Regions from separate parts of the Homo sapiens genome. Here region 1 is linked to region 2. The links come from fine-mapping of genetic effects on gene expression. A gene starts in region 2. The other region holds a variant in brackets. All regions are shown on one strand. Distances are between the middles of the regions.

Region 1 (10,657 bases), 77 kb after region 2:
CAGTGTCTGATCTGGTTTGAATCTGTGTCCCCACCCAAATCTCATGTTGAAATGTAATCCCCAGTGCTGGAGGTGGGGCCTGGTGGGAGGTGACTGGATCCTGGGGGCGACTTCCCCCTTTGATGCTGTTCTCATGATAGAGTTCTCAGGAGATCTGGTTGTTTGAAAGCATGTGGCTTCTTCTCTTCCTCCTCCTCTGTCTTCCTCCTGCTCAGGCTATGTGAGATGTGCCTGCTTCTGCTTCATTTTCCACCACGATTGTGTTTTCCTGAGGCCTCCCCAGCCATGCTTCCTGTACAGCCTGCAACTTTGAGCTAATTAGACCTTTTTTCTTTGTAAGTTACCCAGTCTCCGGTATTTCTTCTTCTTTTTTTTTTTTTCTTTGAGACAGTCTTGCTCTGTCGCCCAGGCTGGAGTGGTGTGATCTCGGCTCACTGCAACCTCCACCTCCCGGGTTCAAGCTTTTCTCCTGCCTCAGCCTCCCAAGTAGCTGGGATTACAGGTGCCGGCCACTGTGACTGGGTAATTTTTGTTTTTTGTGTTTTTTTTTTGAGACAGAGTCTTGCTCCGTGGCCCAGGCTGGAGTGCAGTGGCGCGATCTCGGCTCTGCAACCTCTGCCTCCCGGGTTCAAGCGATTCTTCTGCCTCAGCCTCCCGAGTAGCTGGGACTACAGGTGTGCGCCACCACACACGGCTAATTTTTGTATTTTTAGTAGAGACGGGGTTTCACCATATTGGCCAGGCTGGTCTCGAACCCCTGACATCAGGTGATCCGCCCGCCTCAGCCTCCCTAAGTGTTGAGATTACAGGCGTGAGCCACCACGCACGGCCTGTACTTTTTTTTTTTTAGTAGAGACAGGGTTTCACCATGTTGGCCAGGCTGGTCTTGAACCCCTGACATCAGGTGATCCGCCCGCCTCGGCCTCCCTAAGTGTTGAGATTACAGGCGTGAGCCACCGCGCCTGTTCGGGTTTTTGCAGGTCACCTCTTTATAGCCATGTGAGAATGGACGACAGAGCCTGTGGGCCTCTGGGCCGCCCTGTGCCGGCCATGTTGCCTGGTGCAGGCTGCTCTCAGGGTGGTGGAGGGAGGGGCCATGGTGGGTGCATCATTGGGGAGGGGCTGTCAACACAGGGTGGCTGGGTGCCCCAGGTTCCTTTCCTGGGTTGGGCAGTAGCCTACTCTGCTGTGTGCCCCCGCGGGTCCCAGCTTTCAGTCCCAGTCCTTGGTGTGTCCCCAGTTGAGGCAAGGACAGTGTGTGCTCTTTGGATTTACAGTGGAGGTGGTGGTCGACAGGAGAGCTGCTTAGGGGGAGGATGAAGGCAGGTGGTTGGACTCTGCGGAGGGTTAACCTGGGAGGTGGAGGTGGCTTGGGGGCGTGGCAGAAGGTGGTGTGGTGGGTGGCGTTTTTCCTTAGCAGCCTTGGGGAGGGGCCGTTGGATACAAGCACTAGCCTAGCGGCAGAGACTGAGGCCATGACCACTGAGCTGGGGACAGGAGTGTGCTCCTCCTCTGACAGGGGAGGGCAGGGCAAGGAGGTGGAAGGGTCCTGGGAGTGTCATGTGACTGGGAGACCCTACTGACTACCCCTGGAGGAGAGAAGCCCCCCGCCTCGCCCTCTGCATGTTGGTTGTCTGGCGCAGGATAACGCTCCACCCTTCTGGAGATGGGCCGTGAGTGTGAGGCTTGCAGGCCGGCTTTTAGGGCGTGAGGAGTGATCAGGTGTACCCCTCCCCTCCTGCACTTGAGGCAGAGAGATTTGTGCGGTTTCATCTTGTAGAGACAGTGACAGGCACTCAGAGTGTCTGGGTGTGGGGCTCACCTGGGACCGACCTGGACGGTGTCTCTCCGCAGCTGGCACACCCATACCGAGCAGCGGTCCTGAGGGCCATGGAGAGGGTCCTGAGCAGTCGCGCCAGTGAGCTGGACAAGGACACAGCCAGCACCATCATCCTCCTGGCCTCCAGCGAGATGACCAAGACGAAGGTATTCAGCAGGCCCTCTGGCCTCGCAGACTCAGGCCTAGCTTGGGAAGGGAAGCTGCTTCTTGGCCTTTCTACCCAGCAGCCTTGAGAGTATAGGGTGGTGTTTGGCTGCCTTGGGCTGGCAGATGCCCTTCGGTCTCATGCATCACCCTGCAGGGGTGGGGGGTGGTCCCCTGTGATTTTCAGAGGCAGCAACTGAAGCAGAGAGCAAGTTGCCAGAACTCAGCACACGCAGGACCGTGGTGTGCGTGCAGCTGGGGCCAAAGGCTGTGCCCGGCATTGGGGTTGGTGCAGGGCTCTGGTGGGCCTAACTCTCAGGGCACTGAGTGCAGCCCCCTCTCACCAGGGCTCTGCTGCTCCTGCGTGTGGGGTCTCCTCAGCAGCCCCTCACCTCTCACCAGGGCTCTGCTGCTCCTGCGTGTGGGGTCTCCTCAGCAGCCCCTCAGCAGAGGAGGCTGTGCCCGCCACCTTCCCTGACCTGCACTTTCTGGGGACGCTGAAAACAGCGTGCGCTTGTCCAAGGCTGGCAGCGACTGAGGGCAGAATGTCTTGGTCTTGCCTTTTGGTCTACCTGCCGGTGTTTTGGGTTCAGGACCTGGTCTGGGACTGGCAGCAGGCGGCGAGTGGCGTCCTGGTGGCCGTGGGAAGACAGTTCATCAGCAAGGTGATGGAGGAGCTGCTGCGCAGGCTGCACCCTGGGACCCTGCCACACTGCGCCGTGCTGCACACCCTCGCCAGCCTCTCGGTGGCCAACGGTAGGTGACGCGCGGCCTGCCCCAGGAGGAGCACGGGGCGCTGGAAGCCTTGGCGGAGGCCTTTGACGGTGTCCTCTCTCACAGCGTTCGGCGTAGTCCCCTTCCTGCCATCCGTCCTGAGCTCCCTGCTGCCCGTGCTGGGCGTGGCCAAGCAGGACACGGTGCGCGTGGCCTTCTGCTCCGGTAAGAGGCGGCCTCGTCACCTTCTGTCTCAAGTGCCCCTTTGTGGGGGGCTGTTCCCGGGCATGCCTGTTTTAGGGGGGACAGGTGGGCACTTTAGGCTGCAGGAAGGGGGGCTGTTGGAGGGAGGGGCCCCCTGGCTGAGGCTGCTGGCTGGTTGGGGGGCCCATGTGGGGCTGACACAGCCTCTGTCTCTTGTTTCTCTCTACTCCTGGAGAGCCCCCCACCTTACATTGTGGGTCCACTGAGGGCTGGACGTGCCTGGGGGGTAGGAAGAGACTTCCTCGAAGCCATGACTTTTTGTTTTCCTCCCCACTCCAGGCTAGAAAAGTGTCCGCTCTCTGGGCATCCCAGGACCCAGGGGATGGGGGCACATTCATTCACCCCCACCCTCTGCCAGGAGCCCCATTCCTGGCAGCACTGCCCACAGCCCTCTGTGTGCCTGGCAGGGGACTGCGGGCATGTCATGGGCCTGGACCTTGGTTTCCCCTGCCACTGACAGTGGGGGAGTGGTTGGTGGGATTGGAGGGCATTTCTGTTAGAAGGGGGTGTGGAGATTAGAGATCCTGAGCTACCCTTAGTGCCCTCACAGCCCACGGCCTCGTGCTCCCGGTGTCCCATGTCAGGAAGACGGCCAGCCCTGGTAGCTGGCCGGGAGGAGAACAGGACCCTCGTGCCCAGGGGACCAGCCCTCGTAAAGAGCCAGCCCTCTGGGGCCGGGGGCCGTTAGTTCCAGGCAGCAGGTGTGGGAGGACCCAGTGATGGGGGAGGGGCCCGGTGATGGGGGAGGGGCCGGTGATGGGGGAGGGGCCTGGTGGGGCCCGGGCAGGGCATGTTTTCGAAGCATGGAGGGAGTGGTTACAGGGCTGGGCTGGGCTCTGTAGACTGCAGGGTTGGTTTGGAGCATTTGGACCCACCTGCTCTGCTCCTGGTGACTTTGGGTTCAGATCACAGGGCTCCTGCCACCCTCTCCTCAGCCCTTGCGCTCCGTCTCTCCTGGCCCTGCTCTTTGATAAATGCCTTCATCTTTGGGGCACTCCTTCACAGGCTCTTTCTCACCTGTGGATGAGGGCAGGGCCCCTTGGGTAGAAGGGATAGTAACTCCATGTGACCCAGTTTTGGCTAAAAATGGGATTGGTGACAGGATGGGGGCAGCTGCATACTGAGCCAGGTGTGAAGGAGCAGAGAGTGGAAGTGGGTGTGGGTGTGGACTCAGCTAAGGTGCCTGGGGCGCAGGACGTGCCATCCAGGCTGCAGGGCGGAGACAGAACGGGGCCGCTGGGGCGCCTGTCTCTGTGCTGCACGCACATCGCCCCTTCCCGCCACTCCTCTGGGAAGTGGCCTGATCCCTGCAGCTGCTGAGGCTCTAAGCAGAAACGGACTTGCAGTTCTGACACCTCTTGCTTACCTTCCCCTTCATAGGGGACCTGCGGCTCCTCTGGGCCCTACCATGCTGGCATTTTCCTCCATGTGTCAAACACATGGGTTCAGCCAGCGAAGATTCCATGGGACCTCCTCGTGTGGGACGTGTGCTCCCCACCACAAATGGAACGTTCCCTGTTTGCATCTGGAGGGGTTGGTGGTCCTGCTGGCTGGAGCAGCCTGGGGCCAGAGGAAGCCGTATCAACCGGGTGAGGCCTAGTGGTGGGGGCGGTGGCAGGCCTGCGTCCACTGCGGGAGGGTGCAGGTCCAGCCAGGACAGGCAGTGTGCCAAGGACAGGAGTGCCCTCAGGGCACTGCAGCCAGGAGGCGAGGAGCCTCAGGGAAGACTCCCAGTGGTGGAGGCACGGCTGGCCTGGCCACGCCGTCCAGCAGGGCAGGCATCCAGTAATTCCTCCCGGCCAAGGAACCCCTCCAGTAGGAAAGGTGGCAACAAAAGAAACAGACACTAATTGGAGATGTAGATGGTTCAGGGAGAAGAAAATAACAGAGAAAGAAAATCTCTGATTAATATCCTCAGGAAAATAAGTGGGCATCATGCATTCACGGGACAAGAGGTGTCACCATGGAGAAGCCACATTGAGAGAATAAAACTGACCTTCTGTGAATTAAAGATGCCATAATAGAAATGGGAAAAATAATAGAAGAATTGGAAGAGAAAGTTGTGGAAATTTCCAGAAAATAGAGGAAAAAGGCAAAAATATGGAAAGTAGGAGAGAAAGAGAAGAATGAACTAGCAGGCTGAACCCTGAAGCCAGCATTCCAATCAGAGGCACCCTAGAAAGAATGGACAGAGATGGGAGGTCAAGAGATGACGCAAAGGCATGCCCTAGTGGCCGGGTGCGGTGGCTCATGCCTGTAATCCCAGCACTTTGGAAAGCCGAAGCGGGCTGATCACTTGAGGTCAGGAGTTCAAGACCAGTCTGGCCAACATGGCAAAACCCCGTCTCTACTAAAAATACAAAAAAATTAGCCGGGTGTGGTGGCGCATGTCTGTAATCCCTGATACTGTGGATGAGACAGGAGGATTGCTTGAACCTCGGAGGCGGAGGCTGCAGTGAGCCAAGATTGCACCACTGTACTCCAGCCCGGGTGACAGAGTGAGACTCTGTCTCAAAACAAACAAATCAAAACTAGCTGGGCATGGTAGCTTACGCCTGTAATCCCAGTACTTTGGGAGGCCAAAATGGGAGGATCACTTGAGCCCAGGAATTCGAAACCAGGCTGGGCAGCATGGTGAGACCCCATCGTTAGAAAAAATATTTTTAAAAATTTGCCAGGTATGGTAGCACATGCCTGTATTCCAGCTCCTTGGAAGGCTGAGGCAGGAGGATTGCTTGACCCTGGGAAGTCGAGGCTGCAGTGAACCAAGATCAAGCTACTGAACTCCAGCCTGGGTGACAGAGCAAGACTCTGTCTCAAAAAAAAAAAAAAAAATCCTAATAACACAACAGGGGTGGGCTTCTGCTTGTGGCATTATGGTGGTCTGTTATTCTGAAAAAACTTCCCACTGCCGAATACCTGGAATGCTGATGAGTTGACCAGCATCCTTCTGATCAATCAGAAGGAGAAACCTAGGCCCACGGAGGTCAAGAGGGGAGGTGAGAGGTTAGAGCTCTCCAGTGGCCCCTGGGCACCTGCCTGCCTTGATTTCACATGGGAGACAAGGCCTTTCTTCTTCTTTTTTCTTTTTTCTTTTTTTTTGAGATGGAGTCTCGCTCTGTTGCCCAGGCTGGAGTGCAGTG[G/A]CGCGATCTCGGCTCACTGCAAGCTCTGCCTCCCAGGTTCACGCCATTCGCCTGCCTCAGCCTCTCCGAGTAGCTGGGACTACAGGCGCCCACCACCACGCCTGGCTAATTTTTTGTATTTTTAGTGGAGACGGGGTTTCACCATGTTAGCCAGGATGGTCTGGATCTCCTGACCTCGTGATCCGCCCGCCTCGGCCTCCCAAAGTGCTGGGATTACAGGCATGGACCACCGCGCCTGGCCAGACAAGGCCTTTCTTTGCACTGGGTCAGAGCCCACCTGTACCAGACCCTTCAAGGCCCCTCCTCAGCAAAAAGTGACTGATGAGGAACCTTCCACTGTGCACCCTGGGAGGTAGTCTGTTTTCTTTTAGAATTTCTTTTAAATCCTCTCTCCTGAGAATTTGTAACCATGGTCTGTCCTGATGTAGTTGTAGGGTTCAAAGTTGTTCTTTGTGTTGGACTGGGAAGCCCTTAAGCTGAGACGTTAGCCGTGTAAATGGGCCGGGCTGAAGTGTCCTGGGTGGGGTGACCAGTGTCCTACTGAATGTTTGCGTCCCAGTCAGGCTGCATGGCAGTGGCTCTGGCCGGGGGGTGTGGCCGTGGGAAGCAGCGCTTCCCTGGAGCGCAGGGTCTCGGCTCTGGTGTGGGGCCAGCAGCTCTCCACGGACCCAGGACCAGCAATATCAGTTACAGTCACAAAGCACACACGTCAGCACACAAAAAAAGGAGCATTAGAGCAGAAAGTCACATAATTTGGATTGATGAGATACAGGATAAAAATAGCAAGGTAAAGAGGCGAAAGGGAGAAAGGACAGGGTCCTACAAGGACAGAGCCAGTGTGAAAAGAGAACCAAATACAGTCTAGAAACAAAACTGTAACCATTTCCATTAAAGAGTAAGGAGGTGGGTGTGGCAGCCGGTTGCAGACACTGAAGAGAGTGCACCAGCTGGACAGGGGTCTGGGGACAACCCGGAGGGCAGCCCTGAGCTGGCAGAGAGAAGGGGGTGCGGGGCAGGCGTCAGGTGAGCTGGCCGAGCACCCCCAGCTACAGAGCACGAGTCCAGAAGAGGTGAGAAGAGGCCCAGGCTCACCGGCATCATCAAAGGGAGATGCTGTGGAGGGGCCGCCAGGAGCTGCTGACTTTCACAGCCAGTGCCAGACCTGTTCCCTGGAGCCCTGTCACCTCCACCCAGGGCAGAAGGACGCTATGGGGCTGGGGCAGAGCAGGAGTCCCCACCCCCTGCACTGGAGAGGGTGTGGAGGCCCTGGGTGCTGCTGGTGAGTGACAGGTGTGCAGGGGATCCCCGCGCCAGCAAGAAAGGAGCTGAGGAGGAGGGGGAGGCAGGCAGCCTCTTGCCCTTTTCTCTGTCGGGGAGGGAAGTGTCTTGTAGCTTTAGGGAAACCACTGCAGTGTTGCAGTCCCAGGATTTCTGTGCAGTGTGTCGCTCCTGCAGGCAGCCTGCCGGTTCCACTGGAATCCTCGTGCTGTGCCGCCTGACCCTCCCTGGCCTCTGTGGTTTCTGCAGGGTGGGAAGTGGGAGCTGAGCCCTCCCATCTCACTGTATGTGTCAGGCCGTTGCAAGTTTTGTCGTTACTGTGGTCTCACCTACCCAGACCTGAGCAAGGCAGAAAACACAGAAACTAATGCTTTAGAAAATAAGCAGTTGGCAAAACGTTATGTTTTATACCTAGTTCTTTGAAATAAGTGAATTAAATACTTAAGCTGCTGCCTCATCAAGAGAAAAGAGAGAAACAAGCCAAGTGGTAAACAGGAGGTGAATAGATGTGAGGACAGCGAGGGGTGGCGCGGGGACCGCGGGGAGATGTGAGGGGTGGCATGGGGACCGTGAGAGGGGCGGTGAGGGGCGGCGCAGGGGCCTTGAGGGGATGTGAGAGGCAGTGCGGGGACCGCGGGGGGCGGTGAGGGCCGGGGGGGGGGACGGTGAGGGGCGGCGCAGGGACCTCGAGGGGACGTGAGGGGCAGTGCGGGGACCGTGGGGGGAGGGGGAGGGGCGGCGGGGGGACGGTGAGGGGCGGCGCGGGGACCTCGAGGGGACGTGAGGGGCAGTGCGGGGACCGTGGGGGGAGGGGGAGGGGCGGCGCAGGGACCTCGAGGGGACGTGAGGGGCAGTGTGGGAACCACGGGGGGGCGGTGAGGGGCAGTGCAGGGACCGTGGGGGGATGGTGAGGGGTGGCGGGGGGGCGGCGAGGGGCGACGTGGGGACCACAAGGGACCAGCAAGGGCCGCCGAGGGGACCGCGTGCCCAGTGCAGCCACCTCTGAAAGCCCAGCAGCGAGTGCTCCAGGAGAGTGCCACTTCCCAGGCAGTGCTCCGTGGGCTCCGCAGTGGGCTCTCTCCCAGTCCTCAGGGCTGTGTCACCCCGGGGAAATGAAGCAAAAAGGACAGTTTCCAATTTTTTTTTTTTTTTTTGGAGACAGGGTCTCACTCTGTCACCCAGGCTGGAGTGCAGTGGTGTGATCTTGGCTCACTGCAACCTCTTGCCTCCCAGGCTGAAGTGATCCTCCCACCTCAGCTCCCAGAGTAGCTGCGACCAGAGGTGCCCGCCACCACACCCAGCTAATTTTTGTATTTTTAGTAGAGACGGGGTTTCCCCATGTTGGCCAGGCTGGTCTCGAACTCCTGACCTCAGGTGATCTGTCCACCTCGGCCTCCCAAAGTGCTGGGATTACAGGCATGAGCCACTGCGCCCGGCCCCAAATTATTTTTGTGACCTGAGCATCACCACAAAAGAGATCCAGGGACCAGCCTCACTCAGGGTCTGCCCTCCCCGTCCATGCCCCTGCTGCTGAACCCAAGTCAGAGATGGTTTCAGGTGCCTTTGCTGGGATACAGTGACCCTTGATATCCCAAAACTTGGAACGAAGCAGATTCCTATCACCTCACATACCCCGCTGTGATCGCTGACCCTAGGAACAAAATCCATATTGCCTGGCATAGGGGCTGGCTCTGTCCTGACGGGGGGGTCACCCCAGGAGTGAGAGGCCAGCTCCACATTGGGAGGGTGGGCCCTCACACTGATCGACATAAGAAGGGAAACCACATGGCCACTGCCCTTGTTTATTCTTATTAAAAACTCAGGCTAGGCCGGGCGCGGTGGCTCACGCCTATAATCCTAGCACTTTGGGAGGCTGAGGCAGGCGGATTGCCTGAGCTCAGGAGTTTGAGACCAGCCTGGGCAACACGGTGAAACCCCGTCTCAACTAAAATACAAAAAATTAAATTAGCCGGGTGTGGCAGTGTGTGCCTATAGTCCCAGCTACTCAGGAGGCTGAGGCAGGAGAATTGCTTGAACCTGGGAGTCAGAGGTTGCAGTGAGCCAAGATCACGCCACTGCATTCCAGCCTCAGTGACAGAGTGAGACTGTCTCCAAAAAAAAAAAAACAAAACAAAACAAAACTCAGGCCGGGCATGGTGGCCTACGCCTGTAATCCCAGCACTTTGGGAGGCCGAGGTGGTTGGATCGCTTGAACCCAGGAGTTTGACACCAATCTGGGCATCATAGTGAGACCTCTGTTTCTAAAAAAATATAAAATTAGCCAGGTACAGTGTCACGCACCTGTAGTCCTAGCTACTTGAGAGGCTGAGGTGGGAGGATCACTTGAGCCCAGGAGGTCGAGGCTGCAGTGAGCTAAGTTGGTGTCACTACACTCCAGCCTGAGTGACAGACCGAGACCCTGTCTTAAAAAAAAGAAAAAAAACCAAAATCCTACAATCACCCACACAGACAAAGAATGGAAGAAACCAAAGGTTTTTGGTCTTCACTTAATAAAATTGTTTATATAAAATCCCAACACATTCCCACAAATTATTAGAGGTGACAAGAATTTAGCAGGATGCTGTTGGAGGATCAGCAGCTGAAGCTTATCTGCATTCCTGTGTACTAGACTCAGAGGTGCCAGCTCCTCTGTGAATCGATCATCACAGATTCTGGTGAGCTTCTGATGAGAGTCCCGCAGGGCCTGAGTCAACCATTGGGTTTGCGCCTGGAGGTGCTGGTGACCCTGAAGGCAGTGCTAGAAGGTGGCCAGTGGCCCCATGAAGGGGACGAGGGGTACAGGTAGAGATTTTTTGTCTGGGTGGCGCTTCTCAGGGCCTTTGCTCTTGCAGGGTTGCTGCAGGGTCTGTGTCAGAGGGAGGCTTTATGGGGACCGATGGCTACACGGGAGCCAGGTGGGGGTGTAGGAAGCACAGAGCATAGGTGCGGGTTCCGGTGGTCTCAGGGTCCTCTTCCATGAGGTTGTCAGCCCATTGTGAGGAGGGGTTTGTGGCGAGAAAAGGGTGTGAAACAGTTGCCCAAGCATGGAAAGCCAGGGACCGGCGAGCCTCGCAGGACTGTCGGGAGCACCTGCACCCTTTGATTCTTACAGGCTGGGTTTAAAGTGATTTCTTAAGATACAAAAAAGTATAAATCACAAAGGAAAATATTAACAAGTTTGACATGACAAATTAAAGGAATTTGTTCATCAGAAGATCTGAAAAAATGTACAGAACTGCAGATGAACATCACCAAGAAAAAGAATTACCAAAGA
Region 2 (8,931 bases):
TCGCTCTGTTGCCCAGGCTGGAGTGCAGTGGTGCAATCTCGGCTCACTGCAAGCTCCACCTCCTGGGTTCACGCCCTTCTCCTGCCTCAGCCTCCCGAGTAGCTGGGACTATAGGTCCCCACCACCACACCCAGCTAATTTTTTTTTTTTTTTTTTTTTTTTAGTAGTCAGGGTTTCACCGTGTTAGCCAGGATGGTCTCGATCTCTTAACCTCATGATCTGCCCACATCGGCCTCCCAAAGTGCTGTGATTACAGGTGTGAGCCACCGTGCCCGGCCCACTCAGCTAATTTTTAAATTTTTTGTATGTTGCCCAGCCCTGTACTTATTTTATATGTCTGCCTCCTCCCCTCTAAAAATGCAAGCTCCAATAGGATGGGGATGGGAGGTTTTGTTCATGCCAAAGGAGTACCTGGGACAGGGCAGCTGCTGAATACATATGCTTGGTGAATGACTAAAGAGAGCTTAGCTCCTTTTATAAACCCTGAGTTGCTTGAGTCTCTCTTACATCACTGTCTGGCTGTCTTCCTACCCCTCTGGCAGCTCTGCTTATCTCGTTTGTGGGCTGCCCTCTATCTGGGAGCCCCATACTACCTAGTCCTTCATGTTTCTCAGTCTCAACTGCTAACTCTTCCATTTAAGCAGCCATGTGAGCCAGGGGCAGTGGCTCATGCCAATAACAGCTACTTAGGCTGAAGCAGGAGGATCACCGTAGACCAGGAGTTCAAGGCTCCAGTGAGTTAGGGTCACGCTACTGCACTCCAGTCTGGGTGAGAGAGGGAGTCTTTGTCTGCAAAAAACCTCCCAAGCAGCCATGAAACTCAGCTAATTCCATCTTCTTTTTTTTTTTTTTTTGAGATGGAGTCTTGCTCTGTCACCCAGGCTGGAGTGCAGTGGCAAGATCTCAGCTCACTGCAACCTCTGCCTCCGGGTTCAAGTGATTCTCCTGCCTCAGCCTCCCCAAGTAGCTGGGACTACAGGCACACGCCACCACGCCTGGCTAATTTTTGTATTTTTAGTAGAGACAGGGTTTCACCTTGCTGACCAGGCTGGTCTCAAACTCCTGACATCAGGTGATCACCCACCTCGGCCTCCCAAAGTGCTGGAATTACAGGCGTGAGCCACCCCACCCGGCCACTAATTCCATCTTCTAAGCATCTCTAGAAACATCCTTCTCCCCAACCCTATCTGCACCAACCCTTGCCACTGCAGAACTCTGTCTTAAGCAGGAGGTATCTGAGTCTGTCACTCTCCCACTCCTGTCACTCTCCTGCTGCTCTTGGGATGATGTCTTCTCACACAGGTCCTGACCCTGCCTGCTCTGCCTCTTCATGCTTGCCTCTCATCCTTCCTGAGGGTTAAGGAAGTGCAGGCTGAGGTTCCAGGGCTTCCTGGTGGAGGCTGCAACTTGTGCTGGCTGGGGCCTCAGATGGTGTAGGAGACTGACTCCAGCAGCCACTCCAAGTACTCCAAGCTACTCCAGGCTCCACCTACTCCCTCCTGGAAGCCTTCCCAGACATCCAGCAGTGGGGAAGGTGGATCCAACTTCCCCAACCAGGACTGGGGGGCCAAGGCTATTCCAAATTGTAATTGTATCCATTACAGGGCACTGACCATTCTGTCCTTCCACGGTGGCACCTCGGACTAGGACTGCCCACCGCTGAGCTTCCTGAGGGTTGAGGAAGTGCAGGCTGAGGGTTCCAGGCCCTCCTGGTGGAGGCTGTAGCTCGTGCTGGGTGGGGCCTCGGATGGTGTAGGAAACTGACTCCAGGGGCCACTCCAAATTAACCTGAGAAGAGGGAGAGTCCAGGCTCAGGGCGTCCCCCCGCCCTACATCGCACGAGGAGCAAAGAAATACAAGGTAACATTTATAGACCATTTACACGGTCCTAAGCCCTGTACGCCTATCATCAAATCCTCACAATAGCCCTGTAAAGTAGGTCCAGGTAGGTCCCAGTAGGTCCGAGCGTCACCCCCATTTCACGGACGAGAAAACAGAAGCAAAGAAACATAACTGCTTAAGGGCACCCAGGTGGCAAGCGGAGGGGCCTAACTTTGGGCTCCGTGCCCTGCCCGGGCCAAGAGGACTGACCGCGCGCCCTCCGCCCCCACTCACCGCCCCAGGTCCCGCGCCCAGCAGCTCCAGCCGGAAGCGCCCAGGCCGCTCAGGGTCCGCGCTCAGCTGCAGCCTCCGCAGCTGTGCCTCGGCGTCTGGCCCGGCGCCCAGCGGCCTCACCGCGGCGTGCACAGCCAAGAGCACTGCGGCGGAGCCCAAGTCCGAGGCCGCCGCCGCCGCCCCGCCCGCTGGCGGCGCCATCTCCGGTCCGGCCGGGTCCCACCCCTCCGAGCGCGCTTCCGTGGGATCGGGCCGCTGAGCCCCCTCCGCCGGTCGGAAACACGGGCCGCGAACCTGGGGTTCCGGGCGCGCCCAGAGCGTCGGGCCTGGGACGGCGCCGAGTGGTGCACTCTGGCCAAGCCTGCCCCGCTGGCTTTGCCCACAAATGGACACGGCCCGAGGGTCTCCGGACACCGGCTGGGCGAGGCTGGCGGCGTGTACGAGGCTGGGGCAGGGCGGCCGAGGCGCTCACGTTAGAGCTGGTCTTTGGGGGCGAAGGGTCAGGGGGCGAAGCACCGGCCACAACTGAAGGCGGACGCGGCCTCTTCGCCCCAGGGGCTCGGCGGACGTAGATGCATCCAGCGTGCGACTATCCCAGCGCCTAACGGCAGCTGGACTTCGCTCCCGGGACCTCCAATGGGCTGCCACCTTCGCCCGCAGACCCCAGCCCCCGCCACGCCCACACGTCGCACTAGGTTGGCCCGCGCCTCACTGGTTACGGGGTCGACCCCCCTAGGGGGCGGAGCTAGAGAGGCCACGGCCAATGAACGCCGGGGGTAAGCGGGTTAGTACGACGAGAAGAGTGACAGACAGGCTCCATAACCAGTAGACGTAGAAGGCAGAACTGAGTGGCGGGTACGGCACCCGATGGCTATTCGAGCTCTCGATCTCGGAGACTGGAGCGGGCCATTCAGAGGCGCGGGGCCGGGCCCGGCGGACGCTTGTTGTTGTCCGGCCGGGGGAGGCGGAGGTCGCTCGCTCGCTCGCTCGGCTCGCTGACTCGCCGGAGCGCTCTGTGGCGGTCGGCGGCAGGTCGGTCGCGAGAGCGGGCTCTGTGGAAGGGGGCGAGGCTATGTCGCGGTGGCAGCCCGGATGGGCCGGCAGGGCCGGGAGTAACGGGACGTCGCCGCGGAGCTTCTTCCCCCGGATACAGTGCGGCCCGAGCGGAGGCCGCGGCGCCGCCCTCCGATCTTGAAGAGCCCGCGCTGCGCGGAGCCCGCCCCCGCCTGCGCACCGGCACCGACGCGGAGCGACCCAGCCCAGCCAGACCCGGCCCGGCGCGGCCTGATCTAACCCAGCCAGGCAGGTGGGTGTCCGCCCTGCGTCCCGCGCCGTCTGCGTACCCGGAACCACAGCCCCCAGCAGGCCTCGCGCGGCGCGCTGCCTCCTGGGATTTGTAGTTCCACCGCGGCTTGGCTGGTGCCCGACGTGGCCCAGGCGGGCGCTGCCTGGTGACTGCAGCGCCCCAGCGGGGCCGAGGGACCGCCCTCCTAGGCGTCTGGAGAAACTAGGCAATTTTTCCGGGTAGAGTGGAGGAACCTGTAGTTTTCCTCTCCCCGGGCCAGAAAGTAGCCAAAACGAAAGAGCGCCCGCCCAGGTGACCGCAGGGCCCGGAGTCCCAGGTGTCCTGGTTCCTAACCGGGATGCAGCCTCTTACCTTGGCTGAGGAGCCCAGCCAGCCTGAGGGAGACTGCAGGAGTCACGTCCCGTTGCGGACTCAAGAGTTACCCCCATGGTGGCTGGAGCTCTTTTGGAGTGGGCGTGGAGATGGGGAATGGGAATGTTGAGCAACAATCTCAGCCAGCAGCCCCAGGGTGAGCAGGGTCCCCGGTGGTCTAGTCTAGTCCCAGAACTCGCGTGTTCTGCAGGGGGTATGGCTGACCTGGAGCCTGGACTTACCACCCTCAGGTAAAACAGGATCTCTGTCACCTCTCCTGGCCGGGCAGAGAGGGGAGCTCCTGATGTGCAGCCTGGACAGAGGCCAGACTCAGCTTGTTCCTAGCGGCTCCACTTAGTGGGTAGGAGGGCTGAAGGCAGGGCCCCAAGGGGCCAGATAGATACCCATGGTCTGGTCTCTCACTCCCCAGGCAATACTAGCCCCTCTGGAGCACGGAGCTCCTTCCCCAAAGACATGAAGCTATTGGAGAACTCGAGCTTTGAAGCCATCAACTCACAGCTGACTGTGGAGACTGGAGATGCCCACATCATTGGCAGGTGAGGCAGGCTGGGGGGGCTGGCATCTCGGAGGTCACACTGCCGCGCCCTTCAGTGGAACCTGGGGGAAGCATGCTTCATGGTTCTCTCTGCATCCTATAGGATTGAGAGCTACTCATGTAAGATGGCAGGAGACGACAAACACATGTTCAAGCAGTTCTGCCAGGAGGGCCAGCCCCACGTGCTGGAGGCACTTTCTCCACCCCAGACTTCAGGACTGAGCCCCAGCAGGTGAGCCATGGTGGGGCCTACCTGGGGCTGGGGGTTGAGGGGAGGTGATGGGCCCAGCTGATGGTTCTGTCTGTGCAGACTCAGCAAAAGCCAAGGCGGTGAGGAGGAGGGCCCCCTCAGTGACAAGTGCAGCCGCAAGACCCTCTTCTACCTGATTGCCACGCTCAATGAGTCCTTCAGGCCTGACTATGACTTCAGCACAGCCCGCAGCCATGAGTTCAGCCGGGAGCCCAGCCTTAGCTGGGTGAGGGTCAGGTGGAGGGAAGGGACCCACAGCCACCCCACTGTCCTTCCCCACTTTGGGTAGCCCTGGGCTCCTGTCACCCTGACTGTGACCTGCCCTAGGTGGTGAATGCAGTCAACTGCAGTCTGTTCTCAGCTGTGCGGGAGGACTTCAAGGATCTGAAACCACAGCTGTGGAACGCGGTGGACGAGGAGATCTGCCTGGCTGAATGTGACATCTACAGGTGGGCCGGCATCCCTGCAGATGGCCTCCAGGCCTCCAGGTTTGTGGGGCACTTGGCGCCTCACACCACCTGTCACCCTATACTCCCCAGCTATAACCCAGACTTGGACTCAGATCCCTTCGGGGAGGATGGTAGCCTCTGGTCCTTCAACTACTTCTTCTACAACAAGCGGCTCAAGCGAATCGTCTTCTTTAGCTGCCGTTCCATCAGGTGGGCACCCCCCGCCTCCTCCCCCACCTCCCTGTTGGGCCGATACAACTTCCCCAGCTGTGCCATCTCCACCCAGCTTTGCCCTCCCTGAACATCCTCCCTGGGGCCAGCAGCAGGCCTGGGTAGGGGTCCTGAAACTGGTTTCCCTGCCTCCCCTCAGTGGCTCCACCTACACACCCTCAGAGGCAGGCAACGAGCTGGACATGGAGCTGGGGGAGGAGGAGGTGGAGGAAGAAAGCAGAAGCGGGGGCAGTGGGGCCGAGGAGACCAGCACCATGGAGGAGGACAGGTGTGTGATGGGGGCCATGACCCGGGTCCTTGAAGCCTGGAGTGGGTACAACAGGGTGGGGGCCTCCTCTACTTGGTCTAAGTGGTGGCTCCTGAAGGCCCACTGTGTGCCAACCTCCGCCCAGGGTCCCAGTGATCTGTATTTGATGAGGAGGAGCCGAGGCCCCAGCTTCATCCAGCTTCAACCAATGCCTGGACCTGTCCACCTGAGAGGCCCCTGGGGCCTCCCCAGCTGCTGGCCAGACCCTGGCGCTGCCACAGTCCTGGCACTGCCCAAGGCCATACCTGCCTAGCCCTTTGGCTCCATCCTGTGGATGCCCACTCACCCCTCAGACTCCTGCTGCCCATGCTGTGGCCGGACTTGTCAGCAGGGGGCCTGGTGGGAGGAGCGACTGCCCTGCCCAAATGAACTGCCACAGCAGGGACAGCTGGACCGCAGAGTTTATTTTTGTATTTCTACTGGGCCTGCACACTCCAGCCCAAAGGGTCTGTGGCCGGAGGCCCCACGAGCAGGCCCCAGCAGTCACCGGCTCTGGTCTTGGGCCGGCCCCGGTGCCCACCTGTACCCCCACCTCGCCCATTTGGCCGCGTGCACTGAGTGTCACTTTGCTGCAGCTCGTTTCTTTCCAATAAAAGTTTCTGTGACTTAGTGTGGACCTGATGCGGTGTGGGGGTGGGGCCTGCGGTGTGGGAGTGGCCGGCGGCATCTGGTATCCTAGCAACTGCCGCTGCGGGCCGTGACCGCTAAGTCCTGGGAGCTGTTGGGCTCTGGGACCGCAGTTGCTGAAATGGAGGCAGAGGTGTGGGAGGCAGAAGGCTACAACCTAGTTCTGGACTCGGACCTGTATGATGCGGATGGCTATGATGTCCCAGACCCTGGGCTGCTCACCGAAAAGAATGGTGAGGGGGCCTGGCCTCGCCCTCCGGGCATCCCGCTAGGAAGTGGGTCTCATTCGGGCTTGGGTTCCGTCCCCTGGAACAAAACTCCCCTGGGCAGTCCCTGGTAGGGCAGGGCCCCTGGAGGAGGGCTCCCCATAACCGTCAGGGTCGAGGACCTGAGGCTGTAGGTGGCAGAACTTCCAGTTCCTGCCCGCAGAGTTGACTTTCACGGAGCCGTCGCAGGTCCTGCCCTTTTTGACCAGCAGCCAACAGTGGCAAAGCCTGACCCCGCGCGCCCGCGCCCGCCGGCTGTGGCTGCTTCTGCGCACCAGCCTCCACGAAGTCGTGGAAAAGGTGCGGTGTGCCTGTCCTGCGCCTCCTGGCCTCTTTCCGGATCTGGGCCTTCCCTTAGGGGTCCCCTAGGCCGGAGTAGCCCCAACCTTTGATTGCGGGCCCGCCCACCCCGGCCCACAGGAGAAGAGAGCCGAGCTGCGCGCGGCGCGCCTGACGCATGGGCTGGAACCACTGCGCCGCCTGGAGGTGGCAGCCGGGCTGCGCTCGGTGGCGCAGGACCCGGTGGGTGGACGCTTCGTGGTGCTGGACGGCGCGGGCCGCCTGCACCTGCACAAGGAAGACGGCTGGGCACAGGAGACGCTGCTGGCGCCTGTCCGGCTTACGGGGCTGGTGACCGTGCTGGGCCCGCTGGGTGCCGTGGGCCGTTTTGTAGGCTGGGGCCCCGCGGGGCTGGCAATTCTGAGGCCCAACCTCAGCCTGCTGTGGCTGAGCGAGCAGGGGGTGGGCAGGGCCCCGGGTTGGGCGCCCACCTGCTGCCTGCCGGTTCCCGACCTCAGGCTGCTGCTCGTTGCGGAGATGAACAGCAGCCTGGCGCTCTGGCAGTTCCGTTCAGGTGGTCGCCGCCTGGTGCTGCGAGGGTCAGCACTGCACCCGCCCCCGAGCCCAACAGGCAGGCTCATGCGTCTGGCTGTGGCGCCGGTTCCTCCCCACCACGTCCTGCGCTGCTTCGCGGCCTATGGCTCGGCCGTGCTCACCTTCGATCTGCATGCCTGGACTCTCGTAGATGTGCGCCGGGATTTGCACAAAACGTGAGGGGGATCCCCCTAGGGAGGGCCAGGCATGTAGGGGCACACGGCCCTCACACACAAGGCGATGTTAAGTCCATTGGGATTCTCCCATTCCCCACCTGTAGCACCATCTCGGACCTGGCTTACTGCGAGGAAGTAGAGGCAATGGTGACAGCTTCCCGGGACAGCACCGTGAAGGTGTGGGAGGCTGACTGGCAGATCCGGATGGTGTTCGTGGGCCACACAGGTGCTCTGAGTTCTCTGCACCCCGAGCCTCGGCCCTTTGCCTCCAGCCGCTCTAGGCTGTCCAGCATCTCCGCAGCTCCGGCCAGGCCTTGCTGCGCTGACTGCAACACAGGCTGAAGGCTCCCCTGCCTTCAGTCGGCCGAGTGACCTGCACCCCTCCCACAGGCCCGGTGACGGCTATGACTGTGCTCCCGAACACGACCCTGGTGTTGTCGGCCTCGCAGGACGGGACGCTACGCACCTGGGACCTGCAGGCGGCGGCGCAGGTGGGCGAGGTAGCGCTGGGCTTCTGGGGCCAGGACAAGCTGTCCCGGCGCGTGGGCCGTCTGCTGGCGCCGGTGCGCCCGGGCTGGCCGGTGCTGTCCCTGTGCGCGAGCAGCATGCAGCTGTGGCGCGTACGCGAGCTCTACTCGCCGTTGGCGCAACTGCCCGCCAAGGTGCTCCACGTGCAGGTGGCGCCCGCGTTGCCCGCGCCTGCGCACCAGTCGCTGCCTACGCGCCTCGTGTGCGCGTGCGCCGACGGCTCGGTCTACCTCCTGTCGGCGGCCACCGGGCGCATAGTGAGCTCACTGCTGCTGGAGCCGGAGGACTGCGCGGCAGCCGTGGCCTACTGCCTGCCGCGCGAGGCGCTGTGGCTGCTGACCAGGGCTGGGCACCTGGTCCGCGCCAACGCGGCGCGCTGCCCCATGAGCGTGCTGCACCGCGTGTGCCCGCCGCCGCCCCCTGCGCCGCAGCCTTGCTGTCTGCACCTGTACAGCCACCTCACGGATCTCGAAGGCGCCTTCTCCTCCTGGGAGATCGTGCGCCAGCACTGGGGCGAGTTGCGCTGCAGCTCTGTGGCCTGCGCCTGGAAGAACAAGAACCGGTGGGTGCGGGAGCCGGCGAGGGTCTGGCGGGCGGAAGGAGCGGCAGGGTCCGCGCCAACAGGCTCTTCCCACTCGCAGGTACCTGCCAGTGGTGGGGCACACGGACGGCACGCTGTCGGTGCTGGAGTGGCTCTCGTCGAAGACTGTCTTCCAAACGGAGGCGCACAGCCCGGGCCCGGTTGTCGCCATCGCATCCACCTGGAACAGCATTGTGTCTTCGGGTCAGTAGCTCCCCTGCCAAAGGCCAGGCCGCCACAGAGCCCCCTCCCCTCCGACAAGGCCCAGCCAGATTCCGCTGCCCACAGGTGGGGACCTGACGGTGAAGATGTGGCG

Alleles and levels. Positions count from the first base shown, and alleles are read on the strand shown. Sizes are in standard deviations (SD) of each study's normalised expression.
For the expression in thyroid of the gene that starts at base 3,024 in region 2, allele G in region 1 goes with a lower level than allele A (small effect, 0.26 SD a copy in GTEx).

Evidence for each region. PIP is the estimated chance that this variant, and not a neighbour inherited with it, causes the effect.
Region 1: its variant is fine-mapped to the expression of MAF1 in thyroid (GTEx, PIP 0.96).

What each region holds. Positions count from the first base shown.
Region 1 is chr8:144,177,601-144,188,257 of GRCh38, forward strand. It overlaps MROH1 (maestro heat like repeat family member 1), which reads left to right. Exons shown (of 44, transcript NM_032450.3): 5 at 1,855-1,986; 6 at 2,578-2,740; 7 at 2,825-2,923. Among named protein-coding and RNA genes, the nearest start is that of MROH1, 35 kb to the left of the region's middle. RefSeq lists enhancers at 589-1,402, 2,942-3,659, 6,790-7,333 and silencers at 4,465-4,637, 7,679-7,728. The variant G/A (reference allele first, on the strand shown) is at 6,106.
Region 2 is chr8:144,101,438-144,110,368 of GRCh38, forward strand. It overlaps MAF1 (MAF1 negative regulator of RNA polymerase III), which reads left to right and starts at 3,024. Exons shown (of 8, transcript NM_032272.5): 1 at 3,024-3,421; 2 at 4,203-4,329; 3 at 4,432-4,560; 4 at 4,639-4,804; 5 at 4,906-5,027; 6 at 5,118-5,237; 7 at 5,398-5,526; 8 at 5,651-6,174. The coding sequence starts at 4,247. The coding sequence ends at 5,672. It overlaps SHARPIN (SHANK associated RH domain interactor), which reads right to left and starts at 2,336. Exons shown (of 9, transcript NM_030974.4): 1 at 2,116-2,336; 2 at 1,614-1,788. The coding sequence starts at 2,316. It overlaps WDR97 (WD repeat domain 97), which reads left to right and starts at 6,302. Exons shown (of 24, transcript NM_001316309.2): 1 at 6,302-6,425; 2 at 6,622-6,758; 3 at 6,879-7,507; 4 at 7,612-7,733; 5 at 7,898-8,597; 6 at 8,677-8,819; 7 at 8,904-8,931. The coding sequence starts at 6,314. RefSeq lists silencers at 2,078-2,177, 2,188-2,467, 3,228-3,467 and enhancers at 2,528-2,577, 3,329-3,623, 7,245-7,775.